3 linked regions of the Homo sapiens genome follow. Each later gene encodes a partner of the first gene's protein in a complex. Each region holds a gene or a part of one and is shown in the gene's direction. Other genes may lie near its edges.

What was found. Proteins that work in one complex are often made in the same cells at the same time.
Region 2: WASHC3 (region 1) and WASHC1 share a complex: the UniProt entries of both Homo sapiens proteins name them as parts of the WASH core complex.
Region 3: WASHC3 (region 1) and WASHC4 share a complex: the UniProt entries of both Homo sapiens proteins name them as parts of the WASH core complex.

Annotation. Positions count from the first base shown.
Region 1 is NC_000012.12:102,012,311-102,016,993, reverse strand, and holds the end of WASHC3 (WASH complex subunit 3), read left to right. Parts: intron 1-3,801; coding exon 3,802-3,886; 3' UTR 3,887-4,154; downstream 4,155-4,683. UniProt on the Homo sapiens protein: Acts as a component of the WASH core complex that functions as a nucleation-promoting factor (NPF) at the surface of endosomes, where it recruits and activates the Arp2/3 complex to induce actin polymerization, playing a key role in the fission of tubules that serve as transport intermediates during endosome sorting.
Region 2 is NC_000009.12:26,457-34,013, reverse strand, and holds the start of WASHC1 (WASH complex subunit 1), read left to right. Parts: upstream 1-4,557; 5' UTR 4,558-4,665; coding exon of another isoform or gene 4,666-4,702; intron 4,703-4,780; exon of another isoform or gene 4,781-6,358; coding exon of another isoform or gene 6,359-6,360; exon of another isoform or gene 6,361-7,557. UniProt on the Homo sapiens protein: Acts as a component of the WASH core complex that functions as a nucleation-promoting factor (NPF) at the surface of endosomes, where it recruits and activates the Arp2/3 complex to induce actin polymerization, playing a key role in the fission of tubules that serve as transport intermediates during endosome sorting.
Region 3 is NC_000012.12:105,138,700-105,145,730, forward strand, and holds part of WASHC4 (WASH complex subunit 4), read left to right. Parts: intron 1-1,594; coding exon 1,595-1,702; intron 1,703-2,199; coding exon 2,200-2,346; intron 2,347-2,467; coding exon 2,468-2,547; intron 2,548-3,753; coding exon 3,754-3,859; intron 3,860-4,427; coding exon 4,428-4,544; intron 4,545-5,587; coding exon 5,588-5,756; intron 5,757-6,018; coding exon 6,019-6,173; intron 6,174-7,031. UniProt on the Homo sapiens protein: Acts as a component of the WASH core complex that functions as a nucleation-promoting factor (NPF) at the surface of endosomes, where it recruits and activates the Arp2/3 complex to induce actin polymerization, playing a key role in the fission of tubules that serve as transport intermediates during endosome sorting.

The DNA of each region.
Region 1 (4,683 bases):
GGATGTTATTATACACCACTGTAAATTTCATAAACACTGTACACTTAGACTACACTAAATTTATTTTTAAAAATTTTTTCAATAATAAATTAACCTTAGCTTACTATAACTTTATCAACTTTTTACCTTTTTAACTATTTTGTAATACTACTTAGCTTAAAAGACAAGTCATAAATTTTACAGCTATACAAAAATATTTTCTTTCTTTATATCTTTATTCTATGAACTTTTTATTTTGACTTCTTAAACTTCTTTGCCAAAAACTAAAACACATACAAGGCCTAGTCATGTCAGGATCATCAATATGACTGTTCTCCATATCCTGTCTGACTAAAAGGTCTTCAGGGGCAATAACAGGCATGAATCTGCTATTTTCTATTGTAACAATGCCTTCTTCTGGAATATCTCCTGAAGGACCTCCCTGAGGCTGTTTAACGTTAACTTTTTTTTCAAAAAGTAAGTAGGAGTACCCTCTAAAATAACAACAGAGGCCAGGCACAGTGGCTTACACCTGTAATCCCAACACTTTAGGAGGCTGAGGCAGGTGCATCACCTGAGGTCAGGAGTTCGAGACCAGCCTGGCCAACATGGAGAAACCCCATCACTACTAAAAATACAAAAATTAGCTGGGCATGGTGGTGCATGCCTGTAATCCCAGCTACTCAGGAGGCTGAGGCAGGAGGATGGCTTGAACCCTGGAGGTAGAGATTGCAGTGAGCCAAGATTGCACCACTGCACCCTAGCCTGGGTGACAGAGCAAGACTCTGTTGAAAAAAATATAAAATAAAATGAAATAACAACAGAGGCTGGACGCTGTGGCTCACGCCTGTAATCCCAGCACTTTGGGAGGCTGAGGCAGATGGATCACTTGAGGTCAGGAGTTCAAGACCAGCCTGGCCAACATGGTGAAACCCGCTCTCTACCAAAAGTAAAAAAATTAGCCAGGGGTGGTGGCGCATGCCTGTAGTCTCAGCTACTCAGGAGACTGAGACAGGAGAATCTCTTGAACCCAGAAGGCAGAGGTTTCAGTGAGCCGAGATCACACTACTACTCTCCAGACTGGGCAACAGAATGAGACTTCTGGTCAAATAAAATAAAATAACAGAAAGTACAGTATAGTAAATACTAGGCGATAGAGGTTTCTCAGCTCCATTATAATCTAATGGGACCACCGTCCTATGCAGTTCATCACTGATTGAAACATCATTATGTGGCACATGGCTGTCTCACATTCTGTAACAATTTGTTTGCATTTCTGTCTCCCTCACAAAAATTTTAGCTGCTTCAGGGAAGGAACTACTTGTTATTCATCTCTGTATCTCCAGTACCTAACACATTTTCTAGCAAATAGTAGATGCATGATGATGAAAATAAATCATCATAATAACAGCAGATAATATTTATCTGATACTATGTGCCAGATATTATCGAACACACTTTACATTTATTAATTAATTTAATCATCACAAAATCCAATCAATCAGTCAGACACAAAGTAGTTAAATAGCTTCCCCAAAGTTGGCCAACAAGTAAGAAACAAGGATGGGATTTTAGCACAGTCTGTACCCAGAGCCTATATTCTTAGTTACTATGTAATATAGCATCACATGTATCAATAAATGGTTACACACATAAATTAATGAATTTTATAGTTTCAGTTTCTTCTGGTCCTAAGCTGCTTTTACCCTTTTCCTTTTTTTTTTGAGACAGGGTTTCACTCTGTTGCCCAGATTGGAGTGCCCAGGCATGGTCACAGCTTACTGCAGCCTCTGCCCCCAGGCTCAAGTGATACACCTCAGCCTCCAAAGTAGCTGGCACAGTAGGCCACTACTGGCTAATTTCTCTATTTTTTTGCAAAGGATGGTGTTTTGCCCTGTTGCCCAGGCTGGTCTTGAACTGCTGGGCTCAAGCAAAACGCCCTCTTCGGCCTCCCAAAGTGCTGGGATTACAGGCATGAATCGACATCCCTGGCCTACCCTTTTCTAAAGTAGCATTTATTTTAGGAAGTTATGTACATTGTTGTATTTGTTTGAGTTGTCATAGGTACTAATACAATTTTGATGTGGTATTAAAATAATTCCCACTGGTAATGTTTTCCTACTTAACAAAGTATAGACAGTAAGAAATCAAATATATAGCAAAGAGAAATTTACTGGGTAAAATGTGCCTAGTATTCATACCCACTAATTCTAGAGTTGTTGCTTCTAATGAAAAGGGAGGAAGATGATGGTCCCATGTTAGTATTTTAGGCAGATGGAGCATCAGTCAAATCCTGGAACTGCTGTACCCAGCTTTAAAGTTTCACTGTATTGACTACATAATGCTTCCTTGTAGATATAATCTAAAATTGTTCAGCAGAGCAAATGGGTTTATATTTGACAACTAGGGAGCAATGCCAGCATTATTTTCTCTTTTGTAGTATGCCAAATATATTTAAAAATATAAGCCATAATTTTAATACCTAAAGTAACTGTTAGACTGTGCATTTTCTTATTTTAGTAATAGTAATTTCTGTTTGTGGTGAATATGAGTTTTATTTTTAAGTGTCCTAAATGTTTAATAAGAGTCAAGCCTGAGGGAGAAATCAGTCTGGTAGTTTGTAATTATTAAGATACAGCAGTTATAGGCCAGGCACGGGCTCGCATCTATAATCCCAGCACTTTGGGAGGCCAGAGCGGGTGGATCACAGGGTCAGGAGATCAAGACCATCCTGGCCAACATGGTGAAATCCCGTCTCTACTGAAAATACAAAAATTAGCTGGGCGTGGTGGCACACACCTCTACTCGGGAGGCTGAGGCAAGAGGATGGCTTGAACCTGGGAGACAGAGGTTGCAGTGAGCCGAGATCACACCATTGCACTTCAGCCTGGTGACAAGAGCGAGACTCCATCTCAAAAAAAAAAAAAAAAAAAAAAAAAGATGTAGCAGTTATATTGTTACTCCTTTTCCTCTTGGTTTCCCCCCCAAAAATACTTTTCTTGCTTAATTTACTTTCTTGGTAAGAGTGAATAGAGGCTAAGTGATAATGCCACTACACTGATTAAATGACTTACTGGCACAAAACTATTGAGGCTTAACTAGTTGACTGTTTTAATAACATCATTAAAATTTCATTTTGGTTTATTAGAGCACATCCATGCAAAGTTGGAATCTAACCATTCTCATGTCTCCTTATAATGCCTAGGGGATCTTTGAAACAGTATTTTTGCCAACTCATACTTTCTATTTTCATTCTGTAAAGATAAAACATGTAAGTGAAAACGTTTAACAAACATTAAGAACCTTCTTCGACCAGGCACTCTCCTTCGCTACAAAATTTCCACATTACCTATTTTTTTATTAGCCATTTTTGAACTCTCTTCCATTTCTAAGTTTCTCCCTGCAGCTTTCCTGAACATGAAGCATTTCCTTTTCTTTTCATTTCTAGCTTTCCTTTCTCTGTACCTCATGTACACTTGGAAGCTTCAGGGACTTAGCACTGGTCATGCCAGCCTCTACAGATCACATCTCTGTCTATAATTGGGTCTCCATGGTAATGAGAAGCAGAAAGTGCTGAAGTAGCGCACTATGTAAGGACTGGCAAGAGAAAATACTGTCGCGGCCTCTACAGGCATAGCATTGAATCCCCATGGTGCCCAAGAAGCCCGAGAGAAGCACGCTGTGGTGTAGAGCAGGAGACTGAGGACACGGACTTGGCAGATTTATTAGCAGCAATATTCTAAGATGAACCAAATTTAAGAGTTTGTAAGTGCTCTTTTCAATTGGAAAAGACCTTTGAAATTTTTTTTTCTTTTCTTTTAGGAGGCCAGATGCTCCAGTGCCTGATGGCGAAAGTGAGAAAACTGTAGAAGAAAGTTCAGATAGCGAATCTTCTTTTAGTGATTAAGCTTAATTTTGATAAGAATTACATATGCATGCATAGGGGTACATTTACATTCTGTAAGAGATTGAGCCTGAACTCTCTTAGTCATAAAAACATCAAATGGCCACATGTCCACTACCAAGCTTCTTCTATGTTAAAAAAATAATAATAAAGCAGTTTTAACCTGCCAGTATGTCTTGTTGCTAAAATAAAGGGCCTCAAAATGAAAAATAGGATAACCTAAATAAAGTACAATTAGTGCTACAAATACTAAGATAGAATATTTTAGAGATGCAATGAGCAATTACAGTCAGGCACGGTGGCTCACGCCTGTAATCCCAGCACTTTGGGAGGCCGAGGCGAGTGGATAACCTGAGGTCAGGAGTTCAAGACCAGCCTGGCCAACATGGTGAAACCTCCATCTCTACTAAAAATACAAAAAGTAGCTGGGCGTGGTGACAAAAATTAGCTGGGCGTAGTGGCAGGTGCCTGTAATCCCAGCTACTCGGGAAGCTGAGGCAGGAGAATCACTTGAACCCAGAAGGTAAAGGTTTCAGTGAGCTGAGATTGCGTCATTGCACTCCAGCCATGGCGACAAGAGTGAAACTCTGTCTTAAAAATAAAAAGAGATGCAATGAGCAATTTTAAATGAAGTCAGTGTGAGTTTAGTGATCAATAGTAGACCCAATGCAAAAAAAAAAAAAAAACAGTGAATTTGGCTAAGTGAATTATTCAATTTTTGTGAATATTTTAGCATGAAAAGTATATGGATTCATATCATGAGTTGTTAAAGACATTTCTGGTAGAAAGTAATACTGGGT
Region 2 (7,557 bases), on another chromosome or scaffold:
TTCTGCCTTTTACCATTTTTGTGTATGCTTGCCTTCTTCCCACCTGGGACTCTGATGCAGCACCTGTGAATGGGCACACATATTACAACTCTTAGGCTGAAACCCACGTTCTCAGGCAGAGGTCTCTTGTGGGCATTTAGTGCTATAAATGTCTCTTTACACACTGCTTTAAATGCGTCCCAGGTCTTAGGGTATATACCCAAAGGATTATAAATCGTGCTACTATAAAGACACATGCACATGTATGTTTATTGTGGCAGTATTCACAATAGCAAAGACTTTGAACCAACCCAAATGTCCATCAATGACAGACTGGATTAAGAGAATGTGGCACATATATACCATGGGATACTATGCAGCCATTAAAAAGGATGAGTTCATGTCCTTTGCAGGGACATGGATGAAGCTGGAAACCATCATTCTGAGCAAACTATCACAAAGACAGAAAACCAAACACTGCATGTTCTCACTCACAGGTGGGAATTGAACAATGAGAACGCTTGGACATGGGGCAGAGAACATCATACACTGGGGCCTGTCAGTGGGTGGGGGGCTGGGGGAGGGATAGCATTAGAAGAAATACCTAATGTAAATGACAAGTTGATGGGTGCAGCAAACCAACATGGCACACGCATATCTATGTATCCAACCTGCACATTATGCACATGTACCCTAGAACTTAAGTATATAAAAAAAAAAAAGAAAAAAAAACTTTCACCTTTTTCCAAAGTGTTGGGATTATGGGTGTGAGCAACCACATCTGGTCCTTTTTTTTTTTTTTTAATGGAGGTGAAATTCATATAAGTTTGGCCATTTTAAAGTGAACAATCAGTGGCATTCAGTACATTCACCATGTTGTGCCAACACTATCTCTATGTAGTTCCAAAACATTTTCATCAGCTCAAAATGAAACCTTGTACCCATGAAGCAGCCACTTCCCATTCTCCCCTCCCCTTAGCCCCTGGAAATCGGCTTTCTTTCTCCACGGATTTACATATTCTGTATATTTCCTATAAATGGAATTACACAATAGGTGACCTGTGTCTGGCTTCTTCCACTTAACCTAATGCTTTTGAGGTTCTGTCACATGGTGCCATGGATCAGCTCTGCCTTCCTTTTTATGACTAATACTCCACTGTATGTCCATATCACCATTTGTGTATTCACTCATTAATCTATGGACACAAGCCTCATTTTTAAGCACTTCAAATATGTTAACTCACTGAATCCTCACCACAAAGACAGATTCAGTTATTACATATTGACAGAGTGAAAACTGAGGCACAGGTAACATGCCTAGGATCACGTGGCTATGAAGCAGAAAGAGGACTCCAGCCGAGGCAGTCTAGTCCCAAAGTCCTTCCCTTCCTAGTAACCACTATGCTCTCCTGCCTCTCAGAGAACAACCCACATGGCACAACACGAGGGCTAAGCTGTCTGGTCTGTCGGGTGAAGCTTCAAATGCTGTTCATTTCCGATAAGGGGAGGTTCCTGGGCTGCAGAGGCTTCCTAGAGGAGGAAGACCATGTAAGGTCTAACTCAGGGCAGGTCAGGATGGTGTGAACTCACTCTGAACACAGTCACCGATGGGTGTTTAGGAAAATTGGCTCTGGAACTCCCACAGGGAAGGTTCTTATCTTTGCGTGCACAACACAGAGCCCTCTGGGTAGACTTCTAGACCCAGGCCTCTTTCAAATACATTAGAAACCTCAGCAAGATAAACTATTTTCTGTCTGGCTGCATCTGTCTATCTGTTTAGAGAGCAGGACATTTCCATCCTCCTCTCTCCAGGCATCCTTGGAAGTCTTTCCCACAAGCAAGACATCTTGGTGAAATTTAATGCTGCGGAGGGAAGTGGTTTTCAGGAGAGAGGAGTCTGTTCCCAGAACTGTAGCACAAAAGCTAGAGGCTGAGTAGGAACATCTTAAACTAAGTCCTCAGTCTTATTTCCAGTTTTCTTCCTGTAGATCGGGGCTTAGGACACCCTGTCACATTTTCTTCACTCCTCCACCAGGAATTCCTAAAGTCCATGCTCTTGGATCCTGGCAAATCCAGGAGGCTGGGGGATGTGGCAAGCTTCAGCAAGACTGCCTGGGACCAACCCTGCAGCCTTAATTCCCAGGCCCGCTCAGCCCAGCTGGCCAGCAAAGGCAGGCAGAGCTTCTGTGTCCACACATGAGAATGACCTGCAGCTGTTCTTTGTCCAGGCTGAGGTCCAGGATTCCCATTGCAGCTCCTAGGAAATCTTTAAAATTAGGTCGGGGATGAGCCTGTCAGTAGATTAGGTAGGGAACTTTTATGAAGTTGAGGGTGAACCATCTGGAGGGTGAACTGGCTGGTGTGATTCTAGAACTGGGGGTGGTGCCTAGCAGTGCATTTGTGAGAAGACACAGCCAGGCTTGGTATATGATGTGGTGTGTGTGTATATTCACAGGCATCGTGGAGCATATACACTTTTTTTGTGTGTGTTGAAATAAACCTTACAGATTACAAAGTACTTTTTTTTTTTTTTCTGAGACAGGGTCTCTCTCTGTCGCCCAGCCTGGAGTGCAGTGGTACAATCATAGCTCACTGCAGCCTCGATCTCCCAAGCTCAAGTGATCCTCCCGCCTCAGCCTCCCATGTAGCTGGGACTACAGGTGTGTGACACCATGACTGGCTATTTTATTTTATTTTTGTAGAGATGGAATCTCACAATATTGCCCAGGCTGATCTCAAACTCTTGGGCTCAAGCAGTCCTCTCGCGTCAGCCTACCAAAGTGCTAGGATTACAGGCATGAGCCACCACGCCCAGCCAGATTACAAAATACTTTGACATCTTTTCTCTACAGCCCTCAAAAGGAGGCAGGGCAAGCACAATTAAATCCCATTACAAATGGGGTGACTGAAGCTCCATTCATGGCTTGCCCAGGGTCACACAAAGAATGAATAGCAGATCCCTGAGCCTGTGTGCTTCCCTCTGTGCCAGGCTGCTTTACCCAGGCATGGGTGCACGTTGTGCATGGGACATTTCTCCTTTGTTGTGTCCTGAGTACCTTAAGCCACTCAGATATTGCTCAGGTGGAGTGAGGGGAAAATGTTTTCAGGTTGTATTAGTCAAAACAAAATACCACACACTGGGCGACTTTAAAATCATACATTTATCCCTCACAGTTCTGGAGGCTTGGAAGTCCAAGTTCAAGGTGGCAGCTGGACAGGTTCCTGGTGAGGGCTCTCTTCCTGGTTTGCAGACAGCCACCTTCTCTTCGCATCCTCACTTGGTGGGAAAAGACAGAGGAGAGAAAGAGAGAGAGAGAAAAATGAGATAGAGAGAGAGAGAGAAATGAGATAGAGAGAAATGAGAGAGAGAGAGAGAGAGAGAGAGAGAGGGAGACACAGAGACAATGCTCTCTTTTCTTACCAGATCTATAATGAGGGCCCCACCCCATGACCTCATCTAACCGTAATTACCTACCAAAGGCCCATCTCCACATACCATCACATTAGGGGTTAGGGTTTCAACATAAGCATTTGGAGAGGACATAAACATTCTGTCTACAACATGAGTGGAGATCCATCTCTTCTTTACCTCTGGTAAGGGGACCACACGCTGCAGCCAGCGAGACAGTGGCATGTTCTTGTTACAACTCGATCTAACTCCCCCAGAAGAGGAGGCAGGGAAGGCGGACAAAACTGGGAGAGGGAGAGAGTGTTAGGAAGAGAGTAGGGTGGCCAGAGGCAGCAAATAAAATATAAAATGCTTAATTCTGAATCTCAGATAAACAACCAATAATGTTTTTTAGCATAAGTATGTCCCAAACTAAGCTTGGGACATATTTATGCTACGAAATTATTCGTTGTTTATCTAAAATTCAAACTAGCTGGGCATCCTGTCTTTTAATCTGGCAACCCTAAAAGGCAAGGGCCAAAAATGCCGGAGGCAAGCCAACGGATTCCAGGAGGGACAACTGCTGGACTTTGGACTGATGATGCTCTTTTTATATATTTAACTTTTTAAAAAAGCCTCTTTTCTTTCTTTTTACCAGCTTTTCACTAGCTTTTTAAAAATTGTGGTAAAACATACATAACCTAAAATTCACCGTCTAAACCATTTTTCAGCATACAGTTCAGTGGGATTAAGTAGATTCACACCGTTGTGCCGCCATCACTACCACTCATTTCCAGCACCCTTCCATCACCCCAGCCTGAAACTCTACCCATTGAACACGAGCTGCCCAACTCCGCCTTGCTTCCCCATTCCTGGCGACCACTGCTTCTGTCTCTGTGAATTTTGACTATTCTAGGCACTTCACAAAACTGGACTCATACGATATCTGTAGTTTTGCGTCTGGCTTCTCTATTGAATTCTTAAAGGGGGGTGGGAACTAAGCAGATCACAAGGGAGCTGCCCACAGAGGTAAAGACAAGGTCAGGTAGGCTGAGAGACGCAGGAAAGCGGGTCAAGGCGTAGGGCTGGAGGGCAGGGGCGGGCCCTGGGCGTGGGCTGGGGGTCCTGCCCCGGGGCGCACCCCGGGCGAGGGCTGCCCGGAGGAGCCGAGGTTGGCGGACAGCTTGGCCCTGAGCTTGAGGGGAAGGCAGCGATGGGACAAAGGACGGAGGTCTAGGAAGAGGGTCTGCAGAGCAGAAAGCACGGGTAGGGGCGGCCTGACGCTCGGAAGACAACGGATGGGAGCCGTGTGCACGTCGGGAGCTCGGAGTGAGCGTGAGTTCCGTGCCCAGGCCCGCGACTCGGCCCGACAGGACAGCGCTCCGGGTCGACGGGGTCCTGGAGCCGCGCTCGGGGAGGCGTCTTGGGCTCGCCCCGGAGCTTCCTCCCTGGAGCCGCGCCCTGCACCCGGCCTTGCCCGGCCCTAGCAGGGAAGCCAAGGCTTGTGGGGCGCAGGGACCCGGGCTCTGCGGGGTCCCGGTTCCGCCTCCCCACTCCTGCGTCTTCCCGCCCCTGCCGGGTTCTGGGAAGCCTCGCGCGGCTCTTCCGCAGCTGCTGCCCGCCCGGAGCTCCTGGTCCCTCGTAGGGGACCCCACTTCTCTGACACCGCTTTGGGTTCCCGGGGCCTACAGCGAGGCTTGTAACTCCGGGAGAGACCCTGGAGCGGGGTGTGGGAGAACGGTCTGGAGGAAGGGCTCCGAGCACTTCGAAAGTATAAACCGCGGTCCCAAAGAGGCGTGCTGTGTCTGCATTTTCCTGGGAGTGCACGGTTTACATTCTCGAAAGCAGTGCTGTCGACTAGAAATATTGAGCGATACACATGTACAAGTTTTGTCACTTAAAAAGAATTTGAAAAAACTTCATAGATGCAAAAAAAAAAAAAAACCCACCATTATTAAAGAATACTTAGGTATTTGTGGAATGCATTGAAGAGTTAACAAAATGGATAGGCAGGAAATATCGCAGACCTAGAATGAATTACAGTTACCCACTGTGGAACTGAGGAGCTAGGGTTTCTCATAAAACTCCCTGATAGAAGACGACTTTTGATAAAATTTTTTTTCCGCCAACAAAATCCCCTGTCTTCTCAACTAGTTACTGTCTGTCCACTAAATAAGAGGTGGTCCGTCACTTCTTCAGATGAGCAACTACAGGCTTTTCAAAAGATAATTGCTAATCAACCCCTTTGTGCCTGGGTTTTCTTATTTGTAAAAATAGATACTACTACCTAACTCCAAAGTGTGTGGTGAAGACAAACAATTGGGGTGATGTATACTAAAGTAACGAAAGTGTTGACCACACACTACGGGCTGGTTAGTGTTAGATTCCCTTGTTTTTCCCTCAGTATCAAAAACAGATCTAATTTAGGTTTACATAAAGACAAAGTATGAAGATAAGGTGACTTACAGTTGGTACTACTAACAAAATGTTTGGGCTAATATTTGCATTATTGCATGAAAACAACAAAACATATCAATAAATAACAAAAAGCTTGGAATTCAGACGACAGATCCAAGTCTGGGCTTGATCTCAAGCTAGTGTTTTGATGTTGAAAAAATGTTATTTGGTCTTTCTAACCCCATTTCCTTATGTAAAATAGGGGATGATGATAAATTCACTGATAATAAGAGTTAAATGAGATTCTTGAGGAGTCAGAATGGTTCTAACATGTGTAGGTATTATTAGCAGTCATACTGTAGCATAAGAAAATACCGTCTGCTGAAAGAGGGACAATAAAGATTATCTACATGGTCATCATTTAAAAGCTACCAGATATAGGAAGAAGGGGCCATAAAATGATAACGTTATGATGATTAATTTTGATGCTTAGGTCAGAGTCCATTCTAGGATATCTGCTGCCCAAAAACAGCAGAGACTCATTTCTTTGGAATCACAGGACGCTGAGTGAGAGGAAAGAAAAAGAAAAGAAATATTTAAGTCACATATGTGATTTCTAAAAGTAAAAAGAAACAGATGAAATTAGTGATATATTTTTAAAATCCAGTATATCCCAAATATGGTTATTTTAGCATGTAATCAATATAAAATAATAAGATATTTTACATTCTTTTTTTCTAGCCTTTGAAATTTGGTGCATATTTTACACTTATGGCACATCTCAATTCAGACTATCCACATTTCAAGTGCTCAGTGGCTGCATGTGCCTGGTGGCTACCATATTGGACAGCACAGGTCTAAGGATTTCATTCCTGCCACAAGTCCAAACTCCTAGCTTTAATTTTGAGTGTTTTTAACAAACTGGCCTCTGTTTATCATTCTTTCTTCTAGTACTTCCCCAAGGATGATTGTACCCTCAGCACTCAAGACCGCTTGCGGTTCCCCTACACACTTTTTGTTCAAGCTGTTTCTTTTACCTGGAATGCTGTCTTTGCACCTTCTTCCTGGACCTGGTTCACCCTCGTTGCCTAGGCTGGAGTGCCATGGCGCGATCTTGGCACACTGCAACCTCCACCTTCCCGGTTCAAGTGATTCTCCTTCCTCAGCCTCCCGAGTAGCGGGGATTACAGGCCTGCACCACCACGCCTGGCTAATTTTGTATTTTTAGTAGAGATGGAGTTTCACCATGTTGGTCAGACTGGTCTCGAACTCCCGACCTCAGGTGATCTGCCTGCCTTCGCCTCCCAAAGTGCTGGGATTACAGGCGTGAGCCGCTGCGCCCGGCCGAGAGGCACACATTCTGCTAAGAGCTTTTTCCTGACTCCCCTAACTCCAAGAGGGATTTGTCACTCCTTAGCTTTGTACCCATGACTGGAGTAGAATGAATTTAATTTGAGTTTAGTTGTTTTTGAGACTCTCCCTGGCTAGTGTAGTGTCTTATTCGTCTTTGTTGTGATCATGGCCTGCACCTAACAGATGATCAGTAGATGTTTGCAGACAGAAAGTAAACCACTCATCAGGTGTATTCAGTCCCATTCTTGAACGGGCTTGCTGCCTCCTTTTTGAGGAGATCTGTGTATGTACTCTTCTTTCACGCATATGTGTGAGCAAACACACACACACTAACAAGAAATTCATCTGAAGATGTGCACAGGAAATATCTTGCATCTTTACCCCCTTTGTGATCTTACATATGGGAGAACTGAGGCACAGAAATAAGTTAGGACAGCCAG
Region 3 (7,031 bases), 3.1 Mb from region 1:
TGGAGATTCTGCCTTTGGATTTTCAGCCTTTTTTTCTTTGTATGATTTGTTTATAGATATTTTATGTTAGATTTATTTTTTATGAACTATAAATACAGACAAGTATATGTGTATGTTAGAATATGTATAAATATGTAATACATAAGCATGGTTTTAAAAATAATAACCACTGTCCCACTTAAGAAATACCCACTGTCCCACTTAAGAAATAGAATGTTACCAATATTTTCAAATGCTGTGTTTTTTCCTAATTGCATCTCAACCTGTCCACCTCAGAGGAAACTACTGTCCTGAATTTTATGTTTATCATTCTCTTGTTTTTCTTTTTAGCTTGCCAAATATGGATGAATCAATAAAGCATTAATCGTTATATATGTTTTTGAAGTTTATATTAGTGGAGCAGTATTTTATGTATTTTTTGATCCATTTTTTTATTCAACATTTTGTTTTTTACTCAGCATTTTGTATTTGAGGGTATCCATGTTGGGATGAGTAGCACATCTATTTTCATTGTTGTGTAGTGGATAGACTTCGGGTTGTTTCCGGTTTTTGTATCATAAACAATGTTGCCATCCTTGTATGTGTTTCTTGGTGTACTTGTGCAGGAGTTTTTGTAAGGAATTATATACCTAAAGTTGGTTACTGGATTATGTGTTACGTATATGTTCACCTTTTCAAGATGATGTCACATTGTCTCTATAGACAGACTATATATATGTGTGTGTGTATATATATATATATATATATATATATATATATGCCTCCCACAATACATTAGAAAATTACATTAGAAATAAAATTGTATTTCCAATTGACCAACACTGGTATTATCGAGCTTCATTTTTTAAAATAAATTAGTGGGTATAATTGGTTTTATGATTTTTAATATTTAACCCCTGATTGTTAGTGATGGTAAATATCCTTTCAATTATTTATTAACTATGTTTCTTCTTTTGTGAAAAATCTGTTCATGTCTTTTCCATTTTTTTTATTGGATTGTGTGCCTTTAAAAAACAAAATCTTTCATTCATTTTGGGTCTTCTTATATCCTGAACATTAGTCACTTGTACCTGGTAGATATTTTGTGATACATCGGCTTGCCTTTTTATTTTCTTTATAGAGACTTTTGATGAACAGAAGTGCTTAGTTTTAGTATAGTTGAATTTATCAGTTCTATACTTTGTAAGTTTTTTTTTTTTTTTGAGACGGAGTCTTGCTCAGTTGCCCAGGCTGGAGTGCAGTGGCGCCATCTCGGCTCACCTCAACCTCCGCCTCCCAGGTTCAAGCGATTCTGCCTCAGCTACAGGAACTACAGGTGTGCGCCACCATGCCCGGCTAATTTTTGTATTTTTTAGTAGAGACAGGGTTTCACTATGTTGGCCAGGCTGGTCTCGAACTCCTGACCTGGTGATCCACCTGCCTCGACCTCCCAAAGTGCTGGGATTACAGGCGTGAGCCACCACGCCAGGACTGTAAGGTTTTTTTGTATCTCATTTACAAATCCCTTCCCTAGCCTAAGGTCGTAAAGATCTTCTATAATTTTGCCTGAAATTTTTAAGTTGATTGTCAGAAAATTATTTCTGATTCTTTTTAGGCAATAGAGCATATGTTCTACAGGAGAAGCATGGTTGTGGCTGATTCAGTTTCACATATAACACAGCACCTTCAACATCAGGCTCTTCATTCTATTTCTGTGGCCAAGGTATGCAGCTTATTATGTATTTAGCATAAGTATGTTATCTTTTTTGTTTGTTCTTTCATTGTTTTATATGTGTTTTCTGGTTTAACCTGTTTATTCCATTCCTTCAAACATAATATGCTCGGTTATTTATCTCCATAGTATTTTACAATTTTTACTTCAAGTTATTGGCATTATCTTTACTGTGAAATTGCAGCATGTAATACATTAATACACTTCTAAAAAGACATTGCACTTTTGAAATTGATGCATCATTTAAAAAATGATTTCTTAGTAAATTAACATGGAAATTTTAAAGTATGCCTAATACATTTGCTGTTTCTGACAGTACTAAGGGATCATATTACAGAAGTAAAGTATAAATGTCAGAAGCTTAAATGGGGAAAGTATTTGTGTATGCTCTCTTAAATTGAATCATGGAAAAGATAATCAAGAAGTTTTTCTTCTGAGTCTTTTGTTACTGCCTCAGAAACAAATAGTTTTCCTGTTTTATTTTTAAGAAAAGAGTGATTTCTGACAAAAAATACAGCGAACAGCGTCTTGATGTGCTCTCTGCTCTAGTTTTGGCTGAAAACACTCTAAATGGACCAAGCACAAAGCAACGGCGACTTATTGTTTCTTTGGCACTAAGTGTTGGCACACAAATGGTAAGTGTATTGCTATTACTTATGGAACAGAAATGAGATCTGAGATTTCACAGTTCCCTTGTTACTGACCCTAGAAACCTTTGACTGCAACTTCTCTGCCTTTTTTTCCTGTCCCTGATAGAAAACATTTAAAGATGAAGAACTCTTTCCACTTCAAGTAGTCATGAAAAAACTGGATCTTATTAGTGAACTTAGAGAACGGTAAGTAGGACTGGGATATGCTGTGGTACTCCAAAGACAGGGTTAATAGAAACATTGATTTTCTTTTTAGCATAGCAAGAGAAGAAATAAAATTCAGATCGAGCATTAGTTCCTTTCTGTAACTTCTTTAGCATGACCAAAATGAGATTGTGACTAGGGATCATATTTATTTAGCTTTGCTTCTACAGGAAGCATGTAGCCCCTAGAAAAACTCACATGAGAAAAAGCAGTGCAACCTCAGAGCATCTGGCCGACTTTGATGCATATCGTGATTATTATGTTGGGTATCTTTATTGGACTTAAATTGCTGTATTATAACAGGGCTTCCTCTATTTGTGTGAGACTTAGCAATCCATGATACGTAGTGTTCTATGATTTTATTTTAAGACACGAATTTGAATTAACATTGTTGAATTAGTTTTTGGAAGGCTTATTTTTGTAGCTCCTTCTGGCTTTCTTGTTTTCTTTTTGTTGAGTAAGCGTAAATTTCTTGAAGGGAAATTTGAATTTTGGTTTCCAGCTGAATTAAGGTTACAGCACAATTTCCATTTAGTATTCATATTTATAACTTACTTTTTTGTTGTTCTGGAGAAGCTGACATTTTTCTTGTTATTGGCATTTAATTTTCCACTCTTGGAAGAAATATTGAGCCTTTTTCATTATAAGATAGTTAATGATCATTCTGTTGCCCTTTAAGGTGTGAAATAGTCACTTGGCAAAGATTGTAGACATGTTAAGTGTGGGTTTTTTTTTGGGGCGGGGGGGGTCACAATTTTTTTTTTTTAAAAGATTTTTCTTTCCAACTTAGAGTCAGGGAAAATGGAGCATGTGATGCAAGTATTTAAGTCTAGTCATAGCAAATAATATTGAAAATGAGTTTGTTTTTATTTACCAAAACCAAAAATGGTCAATAAATGTTTATTTTAAACTCTGATATTTGAATATTATGCATATCATTTTTCAAGTATGGTTTACAAAAGCATATGTGCAGAATTCTGACAATGTCAGGCATTGGAGTGTTTGTTACCTTTGTTTCATTTTGATAGTATTTCTTTTGTGACTTTTCTATACTATGTTGGGTTAAGTGATGTAGGGAATGCGAACTGTGTAAGATGGAACTCTTCCTTCTGTAGTAGATGTCATTCCTTTCATATTGTTTTGGGATTCTTCAGTTTTGGTGTGACTGATTACTACTTTACATTGTAGAGTCCAAACACAATGTGACTGTTGTTTTTTATACTGGCATCGAGCTGTCTTCCCAATTTATTTAGATGATGTATATGAAAATGCTGTTGATGCAGCCAGATTACATGTAAGTAAAGAACAATATAAAGAATAATTCTATCATTTTAAAAGTCACTGTGTAAACCGTTTTAGTTTAAAATAGATCATTTGATTTAATAAACTTTTAAAATTGACTGTTTTGTAAACTGCATATTCATAAAGTGTTTATAGTCTGTAGTTAAATTTTATGTTACTGTTAACGAAGTTAATTTATTTAATTTCTTCCTTCATGTTCCTAATCATTTTCATTTCACTTAATTTTAGTTTATGTCATAGTAATCTGACATTTACTCATCAGCAAATTACAATGCAAAAGAAAAAATATTTTTAAGAAATATTCATATTTTTCTTTATGGAAATAAGTGTGTTTAAATGCACAAGATAGGAAAGGACTAGCGAATGTGATTTTTTTTGGGTATATTTAGTTAAAGTATATGCTTTAGGTTCTTTTTCTTTAGGAAAGTTAAGACAGTTGTGGAAAATCATTTTTCCTTCAGATCGAGGTTTTGTCTTTCAAGATAATTAACTTTTGCAGTATTGTTTAGATTAGAGACCTGGTTTTTCTAAATTCATGTACATTTTAATTTTCTTCTTAGTACATGTTCAGTGCTTTGCGCGACTGTGTACCTGCTATGATGCATGCAAGGCATTTAGAGTCCTATGAGATACTTCTGGATTGCTATGACAAGGAAATTATGGAAATTTTAAATGAGGTAACATCATATTTGAGATTGAAAAGCTTAAAACATGTTTGGAATGTAGTGTTTGGAAAAAAAATGTTCGATTGAAGCAGACTCACTGAGTTAAAATTATTTATAAATTGCTGGGTAGAACAAAGAACTATTTTTAGTTACAATATCACTGTTGTGCTAATTGGTCTGTAATTCATTTATTTAGAAATCACACTAGGAATTAGGAGATTTTAAATTTACTTTTGTAAATAGATATTTTAATTTAAAGTTGTTTATTAGAAGAATGCAAATGTGAAATGGTTTTGAATGTTGAAAGCTGCTAATGGTCCAGTTAAAGCAACTTAACCATTAATATTTTACTGAATTTTATTTGCAGAGCTCCTGAGAGAAGGAAATTATATATTTAAAAGATTTAGTGTGTAACAAAAGTAATTTGAATCCAATATGTATGCCCCTCCTTTTGTTAAGGAAATATGTATTATAAACACTGATATCTTTAAAATTAAATTTCCATTTAGTGATATTTTTATTTGGAGGGAGGAATTAAAAATGAGGAAATTTCACAATATAATCCTACCTGGGTTTGATGAAATTGTGAAAAACTTTTTATAATTTCTTGTATTACGTATTCTTATTTAGGAAATAAAATACATGCCTGGATAGTAATTTAGAACTCCTTGGTAGACCAGAAAAGATGATTAATTTTATTACCTTTAGCACAATGAATTTTGTGATTTTTTTTTTAACAGTTATTACAAGGAAGCTTTTTTCTTTTCTCTCTTGCCTGTTCTCATGCCCTTTCCTCCTTTGTTGCTGGTTTCCATAAATTTTATGCTTTAAGTTGCATATTCATGTTCCTTATGATGGTACCATCAATCATTAGTTTTAGATTTTCTTTTCAAGAGTATTAACCTTAAGGTATTGGTGAAAATAAAGACTTAGAATTTATGTAACTGCTTCTGACCAAAAAACTATTGGTTTAAAATGGAGCATAGACATGTAGGGAAACAATACAATTGCAATATCATTTTGAAAAATTAAAGTATCAAATCTTTTGTGAATAGCATTTGCTGGACAAATTATGCAAAGAAATAGAGAAAGATCTGCGACTTTCTGTGCATACTCATTTAAAGCTGGATGACCGAAACCCTTTCAAAGTTGGCATGAAAGACCTGGCTCTTTTTTTCTCTCTGAATCCAATTCGGTTTTTCAATCGTTTCATTGACATTCGGGGTGAGTGTTTTGCTTTCCTTCTTAGAGTCATATTCTCTTTTTTTTTTTTTTTTACCCTACTGTTAAACAAAACTTTGAGGGTATATTTAAATTTTGTGTTGTTATTCTTTAATTACATTTTGTTTCTTTTCTCATTTTTATTAATACCTTATTTTAAAGGAACAAATCTGATGTTCAAGGACAAGTTGTTGTTTTTTCCTTTTAGGTTTCATTTCTTTTCCTTTTCTACTGTTTCACAAGTTGAATTTTTTTTTTTTGGTAGCTTACGTAACTCACTACCTAGACAAGACTTTCTACAATCTAACAACTGTAGCCCTTCATGACTGGGCCACTTATAGTGAGATGAGAAACTTAGCTACTCAGCGTTATGGACTGGTTATGACAGAGGCACATCTTCCCAGTCAGACTTTGGAACAGGTATAGTATAAAATGTTTTTTTTAGCATACTGTGACTGTTGGCTGTAACAGTACTTTTTAAGGAAGTCTTTTTTCTTTTTGCTTTAGTTAGTATGTGCTTATTTTTTAAGAAATTATTTGCCATATAAAATCTTATACTTGACAACAGTAAAAAATTAGGTGCTGCTAAATTGCTTTATAAAGGAATTTACCACCGGGGTCCTGCTTATATTCAGCCTTCTGTTGAGCATTCGAGATATACATATATATTTATATTTATATACAGCTTTTCAGAAACACTAGAATAGTGAAGTGACTTCTGTAGAATTTTAAGAAGTTCAAAGTCACATTTAAGGATTTTAAGCCTGGTTATAGTATATAAAATTTAGTATCTTAGGAAAAATGGTTAAATTTACATGATTACAAATGTGTTTTTTGTTCTTAAAATGAGGAGTATAGGAAAACATTTAGCTTTGCTAATTCAATTAGTTAATGTACAGTATGGCATTGTCTCATGAATGTAATAATTTATGTTATCAGATAATTTGCGTGGAGTTCTCTTTAAGATGATCCAGATAATATTTACCAAAAAACATTTATTCAGTTCTAAAATTTGAGGATTCTAGTTTTCCCTTTATCTTGCTGCATGTAGGGATTATTTCTAGGATCAGTTTGTATATCCTTTCATTTATTTTGTATATCCTTTCATTTATTCATTTATATATCTGATATTTATTGAGAACATGCTAGGCACTGAACTATGTTTAGGAATACAAAGATAAATATAAATAGTCCCAGCTCATGTAATATCCTCTGGGAGAAAAAATGTGTAAACAAATTTTTAGATTAGAATATGATAAAAGTTATAATAAAAACTTA